Linked DNA regions of Homo sapiens: region 2 is linked to region 1. The links come from fine-mapping of genetic effects on gene expression. A gene starts in region 1. The other region holds a variant in brackets. All regions are shown on one strand. Distances are between the middles of the regions. Region 1 holds the start of SCAF11 (SR-related CTD associated factor 11). Region 2 overlaps ARID2 (AT-rich interaction domain 2).

What was found. PIP is the estimated chance that this variant, and not a neighbour inherited with it, causes the effect.
Region 2: its variant is the best candidate, but not a certain one, in a credible set for the expression of SCAF11 in lung (TOPMed, PIP 0.51).

The regions. Positions count from the first base shown.
Region 1 is chr12:45,988,179-45,993,567 of GRCh38, reverse strand. It overlaps SCAF11 (SR-related CTD associated factor 11), which reads left to right and starts at 2,994. Exons shown (of 15, transcript NM_004719.3): 1 at 2,994-3,215. RefSeq lists enhancers at 1,881-2,080, 2,561-2,630, 2,641-2,840, 2,559-3,272, 3,081-3,290 and 1 more and silencers at 2,961-3,010, 3,351-3,450, 3,851-3,920.
Region 2 is chr12:45,811,970-45,817,358 of GRCh38, reverse strand. All of the region lies in intron 4 of ARID2 (AT-rich interaction domain 2), which reads right to left. Among named protein-coding and RNA genes, the nearest start is that of ARID2, 85 kb to the right of the region's middle. The variant T/C (reference allele first, on the strand shown) is at 2,704.

The DNA.
Region 1 (5,389 bases):
CTCCTGACCTTAAGTGATCCAACCACCTCAGCCTCCCAAAGTGCTGGAATTACAAGCATGAGCCACCATGCCTGGCCAGAACCATGTTTTTCAATCCAGTATATTTACAGCATGATTTCCTCCCTTAATTTGAACTTGATATTGTATTCTATTTATAAGTTAAATTAAAATAGCAGTTATTTCTGAAAAAGCTCCATCAAAATCAATACGTTGATTACCCATTTTTAAACGTGCCACTGTGGGTTTCTGTTGCTATGTGACAGGACTGATATTTTAAGTGCCTGGTAAAGTGCAACACACCAAGTGGACATTCAGTTTAAGGCTGTTTTATGATGCATATCATTTGTGCTTTTTACAGTTAAAATCAAATCTAAAATGTTGACAATGATGGTTCATATATCAACTTTACTCCTCCATTTTATAGCCCATCTTTTATTGATTTAGAACTCTGTACCTCTTTATTATATTGTAAATTTAAAAAATATGAAAACATCAGAGAGAATAATAAATCTTTACATCCAAACATAATAAGGAGGATGCTGCATATACAGAAATACACATGAACTTTTCTCTGGAAAGAATGGCCTATTACAAACCACCACTCTCTTCTATTTGCACATGAAGGTAGAAACCACAGTGGCATTAAGAGCATTTTTCCTTAAGACATGCTCACATGATATCTAGGAGGCCAACAGTAAGAACGTGAAAACTTAATTCTCTGCTAGGAAACAAATACATCAAAAGATCTGGTATTTTTAGTTTTGATGAAACTATACTGTTATTATCAATTTAAAATAGTTTTCTATTTGGCAGATTTTATCATTTGGGCTTAAATTTTGAGAAAAAACACTTTCCTAAAACAAAACTGAGATTTTTAAAAATATATTTAGATTTTAAATATATATAGATTTTTTAAAATATAAAACATACACAGAAGCATGTTGCACCAGGAGTCCATATCAGGAGTTACACTCTCTAGAGTGAATCCTAGAGATTGTATACATAAAAAAGCTACACCCTTATTCTGTTGGATGGCTCATAAATGTTGATCTGGTTATAGCTTTCCACACTAATTTTCACTATTTCTCTTAACAATCATCCTTTATAATCATTCTTTATATCCAAATAGTATATATCCTTTACTATTTGCTCTGATTTTGACAGGGAAAGGTCCTTCATAAGAATTTTGTTGTTCCATCAGAAGAAAGCATTTTAACGCCTCTAGCTCATTTTCCCCTCAAATATCCCAAATACAGTAAAGCCACCTAAATTCCCAAACCCCATATCAAAAACAGTACACTGAAAAACTCCAAAGACTTTGACAGCGACAAGACCGCCATTCATGTGTTCCTTCAGCAAGTGCCAGACGCTGTTATGAAAGTGATAAGACACTGTCCCAATCCTCACAGTGTGAGACAGTGAGCAGACTCAACAGAATGCATAGGATGAAAGTGCCAGAAAAGCGACGTCCTCAGGGCGGGAGCAGGGGACGCCGCAACGTAGTCTGCGAGAATGCAGGAAGGCGGCAGTGAAGCGGTCGGTCGGCGGGGCCGCGGCAAAGTGGGGAGGAAACTCATCCCGGGCAGGCGTCAGGGTGGCTGGAGAGCGCAGCACGCGCGAACAGAACGGGGGCAGGCGACAGGAAAACGTGTGAGCGCGCGGCTGAAAGCGACTGGGACCTGGGTGAGCCGCGCGCGGGGAGCAGAGCTTAGTCCTGCGGGAGCCGCAAGCAGGACAAGGGCGTGGGTGGGAGGACTGGAAGGTCAGCTGGTAGATGGGGGACACTGAGGGCAGGCAGAGCAACCGGAAGCTTGCTGCAGTCGACGAGAAGAGAAACTAGGAGGTTAAATAATCAGTGACTTTGAAAAAGTCAAAATACCTCCGAGGTAAAACAAAACATTTAACAACCCGCCGGGGGAAAAAGTGGAGGATGGCACACACGTCACTATCTAACCACAACGCGGAGGCCTTTTAAGTAAATAATGATAAAGTTTTTGTTGTTGTTTGAGACAGGGTCTCGCTCTGTCGCCCAGGCTGGAGTGCAGTGGAACGATCTCGGCTCACTGCAACCTCCGCCTCCCGGGTTCAAGCGATTCTCCCACCTCATCTTCCCGAGGAGCTGGGACCGCAGGTGCGCGCCACCACGGCCGGTTAATTTTATTTTTTGTAGAAACGAGATCTTAATACGTCGCTCAAGCTGGTCTCGAACTGCTGAGCTCAAGCGATCCGCCAGCCTCGGCCTCCCAAAGCGCTGGGATTACCGGCGTGAGCCACCGCGCACCTGGCCCAAATTTAATTTTGTGATGTGGGGTTAAGACATGGGAAAGCCCCTAGGCTCGGGGAGTCAGGCGGGAAAGCTCTCCCCCTGGCATCTAAAAAAATGCCCACCAGAAAGGAGGAAAGGTGGGCTTCCAAATTGCCGACTCTTCACTCCACAGGCTGCATTTCAGGTGGGCAGCGCAGCCAGGTGAACACTCAATCCACCGCAAACATGCGGACACTCTTTTCAATATCAGATTACCATAAAGATAAGGAGCACACCCTGCGCAAAATCCTTCCTGTCCAGTTCCCTTAAAGCCTCTTTCATTGTCCTCCGCGACGCAGCCTGTAAAACTGCCAAAGGAGGGCAGAGGCCAAAGTCCACGCGCTGCGCATGCGCACCATCCGCAGTGTGGGCGAAGGGCGGTGCTGGAAGGACGTTTCCCAGAAGGCCCCTCCAGCGCAGCTGCCCTTCCTCCCGCTCACAGGCCGCGTGACGTGACTCCACCCACCACGCTTCTCGGTCTCAAACAGCAGTTTGCCAGCGCCCCCCTGCGGCCCAACTGGGTACTACGAACATGCACTCAGGGCCAGAGCGAGCGAGTAAGCAGAATGTGGCGAGTCCGGCTGCCGCCGTCGTCACCTTAGCGCGCCGACAGCGAGGGAAGGGAGGAGGAGGGAGACGCGCAGGGAGGGGAGGGGAGGGAGGAGGCTAGACAAGGCGGGGGAAGGGGGAGTAGCGGTGGCTTAAGCCGCGCGGAGCAGCGCAACCTGGGTCGCTCCCTGCTTCGCCGCCGCCTCCGGACCGAGCCAGCGGAGTCAGTGTCCTAGAGACCCTGTAACACCACAAAGCGGACGAAGGAGTCCATGTTGGGGAACTTGGCAGCGGAGTGACTGGGACCTGGGAACCTACTGTGGGGCCGCGGCCGGACCGAGCGCCTCGACCTCGGTCTGAGGTAAACACTGGTCGACCCGCGGGGTGGATGGGCTTGGGCAGCTGTCTGGGAGAGACGAGGGTTAGCGGCCGGCGCAGAGCGCTGGAGCGGGCCTAGGGCGACGCGAGGGCTGACAAAGTTTCGGAATCTCGCGCGGCCCGTGCGACGTCGTGCGCTGGGAGGAAAGTTGGAGCTACCTCTCGAAGTGGGGGAGGCTGCGGCCGGGAGGGCCCCTTTCCCTCTCGCTGCCCCGCGAGGGAGGCTCGGCCCGGCCCTGGGCCGCCGCCGCCTCTCTGTCGCACTCTGTCCCATTTCCTCCTTGTGGCCTACGCGTCTCCCGCCGCCTTAGCTGGCGAAGCCTGTCCCCGTCCGGGTGCAGGGTCCTACGGGGGGGGGGGAAGGGGCTCCACGCCAGAACCGCCACAGACACCCTCCTCCCTGCAGTGGAAACGTGTCCTGCTGAGCTTCCGGGCGCTCCCGACCGCGGTGTCGGCTTTTCTTGGGAGACTTTGGTCGCGAGCGTCCAAGCCCGCTAGTGAAACCAAACTTTACTACGCCGTGACCTCTCGAGTGCGCGAATGGGGAAGAGCCGGCGCTTCTAAGCATCAGCCTTTTTCACTCCTTGATCTGAACTTCAAACTACTCATCCACCCCCAGTGTTTTAAATTCGCTACCTGGGCTGACAACTACGGGGCCGGGAGATATAAATTTAGCCTAATCAGTCGCCCCTTCTGAGACCTAGGAATTTTGAACCATTAAAAAGATTTCCTACAGATGGCTGGCGGTCTTGCCACCAACACGTATTTTGAAGTATTGTTTCAAAAGTAGACGCCTGATTTAGAGTACTTGATTTAGACATTCACGGATTCAAATGTTGAATTTTGAAATACTTCCAATATATTTCCGTATTGTATTACATACAGTGTCTACCAGCTGACTGTTGTTCATTCATTTTGGATTACATTTTGGCTAACATGCTACCACTGACCTAAGATACTTAAGCAAAACTGCTGAAAAATGTTTTTAATGCTTTGTGTAGTAGATGCTGATGTTAAATTTTTTTCTCCGATTTGGGAATTTTCCCCGAATTTTGGGAAAAGCATATTAATAAATGCATTATTTTTTCGTTTTAAAAGAAAAATTAATTTCTACATATCACCACCTACCTCAGCAGCAGAATATCAGGGCAGTACATTTTAAAATAACGGTTGGTTTTTGTATTTTATTAGTAATTGTATTAAAATTTTGACATGTAATCAAGTCTGTTTCTAAACAATTGCTTTCTCTTTCCTGTTTCTTTGGCAGTTGGCTTGATCATGTCACTATTTTGGTTAAAAGATGCAAGAAAAAGTTCATGGGCCTTTTGTTTTTGTTGTTTTAACTAAGCAAGAGAAATGAAATCTTGAAACTGTCTTTGGATTTCTTTTGTTTTATATTATCCTATCGGATAATCTGAATTTATATTTTTTATGCAATGTGAGTTTTTTAAAAACAGTTCTTAGGGTAGCTGCATTTTAGCTATAATATTTTTTGGTGCTTGCAGATATTTTAACAGTCATTCAGTTTTTCACATTCAGATAGTGAACTTTTTGCCTGAGAGTTTGAGTACATTTTAAGATTTCACTGGGGTAAAATTTGAATGTTTGCTTACTGTAAGTATACTCATGCTTTAAAGACATTCTTCAGTATAAAGGGGAAGAAAACTGTAGAAGAAAATTTAAAGTTTCTAAATATGTTGCCAGAAAACATGTCATGGAGAAAATTTTACGGATAATTTTTTAATTTTTTCTGTTAATACCTTCATGTGGTAATAGGGCTAGTGTGTTAAGATCGAAACTTTTCAGGAGTTACTTAGCTCTCTATCGTCCTTTGGCACCAACTAGAGCTTAGACAGTTTTCTGGAAAACCTGTGCTTTTATTCAGCAGAGATAGGATGAATCAGTGCAGTTACATGATACTGTTGATTCATCATCAGTAACATCTTTTAGTAATCAGAAAATACAGTACTATACTACCCATCAACTTAATACTGAACTTTTAAAGTATATCAGAGATAGTTGTAGCACCTTAATTAAAGAGAGTAGCAGGCATAAAAGTAATAAAAAGAAAGTCAACTGTAGAATAATTTTCATTGTAACTTCCCTTTAGCAAGCCCTGCTATCACCTGCTTTTGTCTTTTAAGATGTAAATTGTAC
Region 2 (5,389 bases), 180 kb after region 1:
TTTTCTGAGACATGTCTGGCTCTGTTGCCCAGGATGGAGTGCAATGTCGCTTTCATAGCTCACTGCAGCCTCAATCTCCCAAGCTCAAGTGATCCTCCCACCTCAGCCTCCTGAGTAGCTAGGACTACAGGAAGGCTCCACTATGCTCAACTAATTTTATTTTTAGTAGAGAGAGGTCTCCCTATGTTGCCCGGGCTGGTGTCTCAATCTACCGAGTTTATGCAATTCTCCGGCTGCGGCCTCCCAAAGTGCTGCATTACATGCATGAGCCCTGTGCCCAGACTAATCTACACTTCTTACTATTGCATTTCAATGGACTTCTTCCAAATTACTGCAATATCATTAACATAGTAAAACCCATGCTAATTTTAGTTCTACAATTCTAAGTTTTGACAGATGTATAGTTTTAATCATCACAGTCAAGATATAGAGTATCTCTATCACTACAAAAAGTTTCTCATGCTCAATTCCATCCCCTACCACTAGGTACTACAAATCAAATTTACTTTCCTATCATTTTATTTCAAAATGCCAAATAAGTGGAATCACACAATATAGTCTTTTGTTGTCTGGTTTCTTTTATTTAGCAAAATGCTCTTGAGATTCATATCCATGTTGATAAGTGCATCAGTAGTCCATACCTTTCTAAACACAGTTTGTTTATCCATTCCCTAGTTGAGGGACGTTTAGATTGTTTCCAATTATTGGTGAGTACTAATAAATCTCGCTAGAAACATAGACAGGATTTTGTCGGGACATATTTTTTTCATTTCTCTGGCATAAATACCTAGAAGTGGGATTGCTGAGTCACACATAAGTGTATCCTTAACTTTGTAACAAACTGTGAAACTGTTTTCCAAAGTGGCTGTAACATCTTGCATTTCCATCAGCAATATAAAGAGTTCCTATTGCTCTCCATCCTGGCCAGCACTTAATACTGTCAGTTCTAAATACTCTAAATGAGTCCTTTGTTTCATATTTGCTTTGCACATATTTTCTCCCTGTTAGTGGCTTATCTTTTCATTTTCTTAAGTGTCTTTAAACAGAAATTTTAATTTTGATGAAGTCTGAGTTACAAATATTTACTTTTATGGTTCATGCTTTTGTGCCTAAACCAAAGCAACTAAGATTTTCCACAGGAGAATTAATTTAAAACATTTACAAAACTTTGAAGATGGGATAAAACGGGCTTACAGAACACTAAGATACTATATAATCATAATTCACATATATAAAAAATGTTGTATTTTTAGAAATAACTGAATCCTAACGGGGCAGTTTAGACCTTGGCAACTATGTCCTGAGACAAATATCACAAGTACATTTTTTCAAATAAAGCTGTCACAAGTTTAAGGGAAAAGGCAAAAAACTAAAATTTAAACATTCAAGAATATTTCAGGCTGGGCATGGTGGCTCATGCCTATAATCCCAACACTTTGGGAGGCTGAGGAAGGAAGATCACATGAGGCCAGGAGTTCAAGACCAGCCTGTGCAATATAATGAGATGCTGTCTCTACCAAAAATTTAACATTTAGCTAGTTGTGGTGGTGTGTGCTGTAATCCTAGCTGTTTGGAAGGCTGAGCTGGGAGGATTGCTTGAGCCCAGGAGGTCCAGTTTCCAGTGAGCTTTGGTTAAGTCACTGCACTCCAGCCTGAGCGACGAAGTGAGACCTGTCTCTTAACAACAATAACAAAAGAATATTTCGGAAATATCTGAATATTTTTAAAAGTTAAAAACACACACACACACACACACACAATCTCTTTAAGTAGGATGCAAGTAGAAATCTACTGTCACAACATACCACAGAAGAATATCATGTAAGTAAAGAATTTCATTTCCAAATGCAGACAGTTGAAGAGATACACCTCTTCAATTCTAACCTATTCTAGCAGTGTCTCCAACATAATGAAGAAATTCCACAACACAGTTTTTAATGGCTATGACACAGATTGTTTACAATATTTAAAGCTTGACAATAAGAATATATTGTTCATTTTTGATAATCCTTATAAATGAAATTTCTCATAAGTAACATAAAATAAATATCTGGAGAAAAAGTAATGAAACTTCTATGAATATAGGAGCAGATTTTTATATTCTACACTGTAAACTGGACTGATGATAAGCCAAGTCTTAGCAATAATTAATTTACATTTTTATATTCCACATAGCTTTCAGGTAAATCTGAATAGAAAAAAATGTGGAACCCGTATTCCTTATCTGTCGCAGTCCTAAAGTTTATGTTTTCAATATGATCTTAGAATTGTGCTATTTCCTACTGTAAAATGACAGATATTCCATTCAATACATCCTTACCAGAATGACTCTGTCAAAGACATCTTCAATTAGAGTAAGATAAACATAACAATTATGAAATATCCTTTAATTATATTTAAACATTTAGTAGTAAAGTGATGATTTTAGGATCATTTTCAAGTTGCATGATGTGCTTGCTTTCATTTGACAGGAGACTGCATACATTAACAGCAAAGTCTGCTTCATTTGGGAGTTCAGATAACAGTGAAAGCACCAATTTATTATAATCATTTGGCGAATTAAAAATTCCTTGGTAAAGATTCCTAAGATAATTATGTAGGAGAAAATGCTTATAAAATTTTAAGATCCTCCTTTCATTCCCTCAAGGAGATATGGTTGAGTAGCTATAATTTTATAACTGGAATGAGGAGGGAAGTTTATTA[T/C]TTTTTTGAGATGGAGTTTTGCTCTGTCGCCTAGGCTACTGGAGTGCTGTGGATTTCGGCTCACTATAACCTCCGCCTCCTGGGTTCAAGCAATTCTCCTGCCTCAGCCTCCTGAGTAGCTGGGATTACAGGCATGCGACACCACACCTGGCCAATTTTTGTATTTTTAGTAGAAACAGGGTTTCACCATGTTGGCCAGGCTGGTCTCAAACTCCTGACCTCAGGTGATCCACCAGCCTTGGTCTCTCAAAGTGCTGGAATTACAGGTGTGAGACACCGCGCCCGTCCATATTTTCAACATTCTTGATTCAAAATTTATACAAGTGGGTCACTACTGACAAATTTAATCTGAGGCAGTCACTTCTCTTTGTTTTCAATTTAGAAGAAAGGGAGAGTTGTTCCTGGAGTGCTGTTTATGTACACTGTAGAAATTCTACAATATATTCTATCCATCTATATTGGCAGTGATTGTTGTAGTCCAAATGTCTTGTTAGAATATGCAATGCTTAAAGAAAATCTTTACTCAAATATAGCTAATAAAAAATTTTTATATCTTCCTTCTTGAAACCGAAAATTTAAGTACCAAAAATGCAAATGGACCGGGTACTTGGCTTCACTTTATTAAAATGATTGAGTTGGATTAAATCATCATAATAATAATAATCCACCTAATAATTCTGCAGAAATGATTATATCCAATCAATACCAAGGAAAAAAACAGAGAAAGAAGGAAACTGAAGTATTAGGTATGTAATGTCAAAAACAGTATGAAAACCTATGCAAATGAATGATAAAAACCACCATGTACTTGATGCCAATGTTGAAGAATCTTAAAGCTTAAAGCAACAAAACCCACAATATTTTTTTTTGCCACTTAAAGTTATTGGCCAAAAGTAGTCAATATCCTCAAAGGCAAATTCAGGCCCACATTCTATCAGTGTACGATGTTCTATATTCTAGCACTACTGACCACTGAAATTTATTATACTACCATTCAAAATATTTTAGAACAGCTTTTCTTAATGTCAACAATAAAAGTATCTCTGGATAAATACATTTATTCAAAGCTACAAGGGGAATAAGGCTGTATGATCAAATATGTAAATACATATCTTCTCAAAGTTCTAAGTAAATTTCTTTAAATACTCTCAATCTAATATTAGATAATTTCATTTTGGTGGTTTTTTTTTTTTTTTTAGAACACATGCACGCACACACACACGGAGCTTATTCTATTTTCCTTAATAACACATTAAAAGAAAAATTAATGACTTATTTGCTTTATATATTGATAATCATGTCAATTTTTAGAATACTGTCATGATGTTGCTATGGCTCTTTCTAGAAAAACATAAAGTATAAATGCTGCCCTGAAATTCTACCCCTTTTCAGTATGAACTAGATATTCTGTAATCTGATGTTCCCCATCAGTTCCCAGTTTCTTCCTCTTCATGAATCTCCAATCCTGACTTCATTACACATGTTACACATAAAATGTAACTGTTCAGATTCTCTTAAAACAAATCACACATATAATAGCATATCAGAAAAGGGTTGTTTTAACAACAGGTTAAGCAATTCTATCACTCCTTTAACCTGTGTAGCTCTATCAGTAACTTTCATTATAGGCTTCCGAAATACCAAAAATATTTCACATGATCTTTCTCAAAGCAGATCAATAGAAAATGGGAAAAAACAGATTCAGGAAAAAAATCTATTTTAAACAAGACCAAACATAGAAAAGTGTTTGTTTGGGAACAGTAGTAGCGGACACCAAAGTCTGTTTAAGTTACAAGGATTAATAGCTCTGCTATTATTGTAATACAGGGATCACACAGAGTTGTAAGTTGAAAATGATCTTTAAAGGTCATTAGCACAACATCTCATTCGATGTAGGAGTATCTTTTTTAACATCCTTGAATTAGATAATGGTCATTAGCTCTTTTTAGAAACAAGGAGCACATCACCTAACAAGTCACCCCATTTTATCTTATCAGCATAAACTATTAGCAAGCATTTCTAAAGGTGACTTAAAATATTCTCCTTTACTCTTGGTTCTTGCAGTAAAAACTATTCATTAAAAACAAAGCTAGGTTTTGTTGGCACTCCCTGCTTCACCCCTACCCCAATTATACAAAAGCATCAGATGAAGCCTCTTCTAATGGAGATCGCAGATTCTAAAAGAAGATTCTATTTCTTCAGTCATTACTGATTAGGGAAGAAATATGAAGTCAAATTCAACTTTTAAGAAACTTTGAAAATAGATAATACGAAAAAAAAGTTGATGATACTGATGATAGTCCACAAATGAGACAGTATAAATCTAAGGATAACCTGTAAGAGTACAGAACTAGTACCAGTAAATAATAATAATGATAATAAATATTTAGAATAATTATAATTTTTATAAAGAACATAGCTTGAAAAACAAGTATCTCTTTTTTTTTTTAGGCCAAATGTTAGTGAGTGGAAAAACAAAGATGTGTATCTCCTTAGACCTCTCTTCCTAGTCATCACAGTCCTGACCTCCAGAGCCACTGAAAACTGGAGCCCGTCTACTCCACTCAAGAGAGTATCAACACTCGCGCTGATTTTTTTCCAACTTGATTTTTTTCAAGCTGTGGATTCCTCTATAACCATTACAAGCATGACAAGTGAAAAAAAAATCTTCCTGCTACCATGGCAG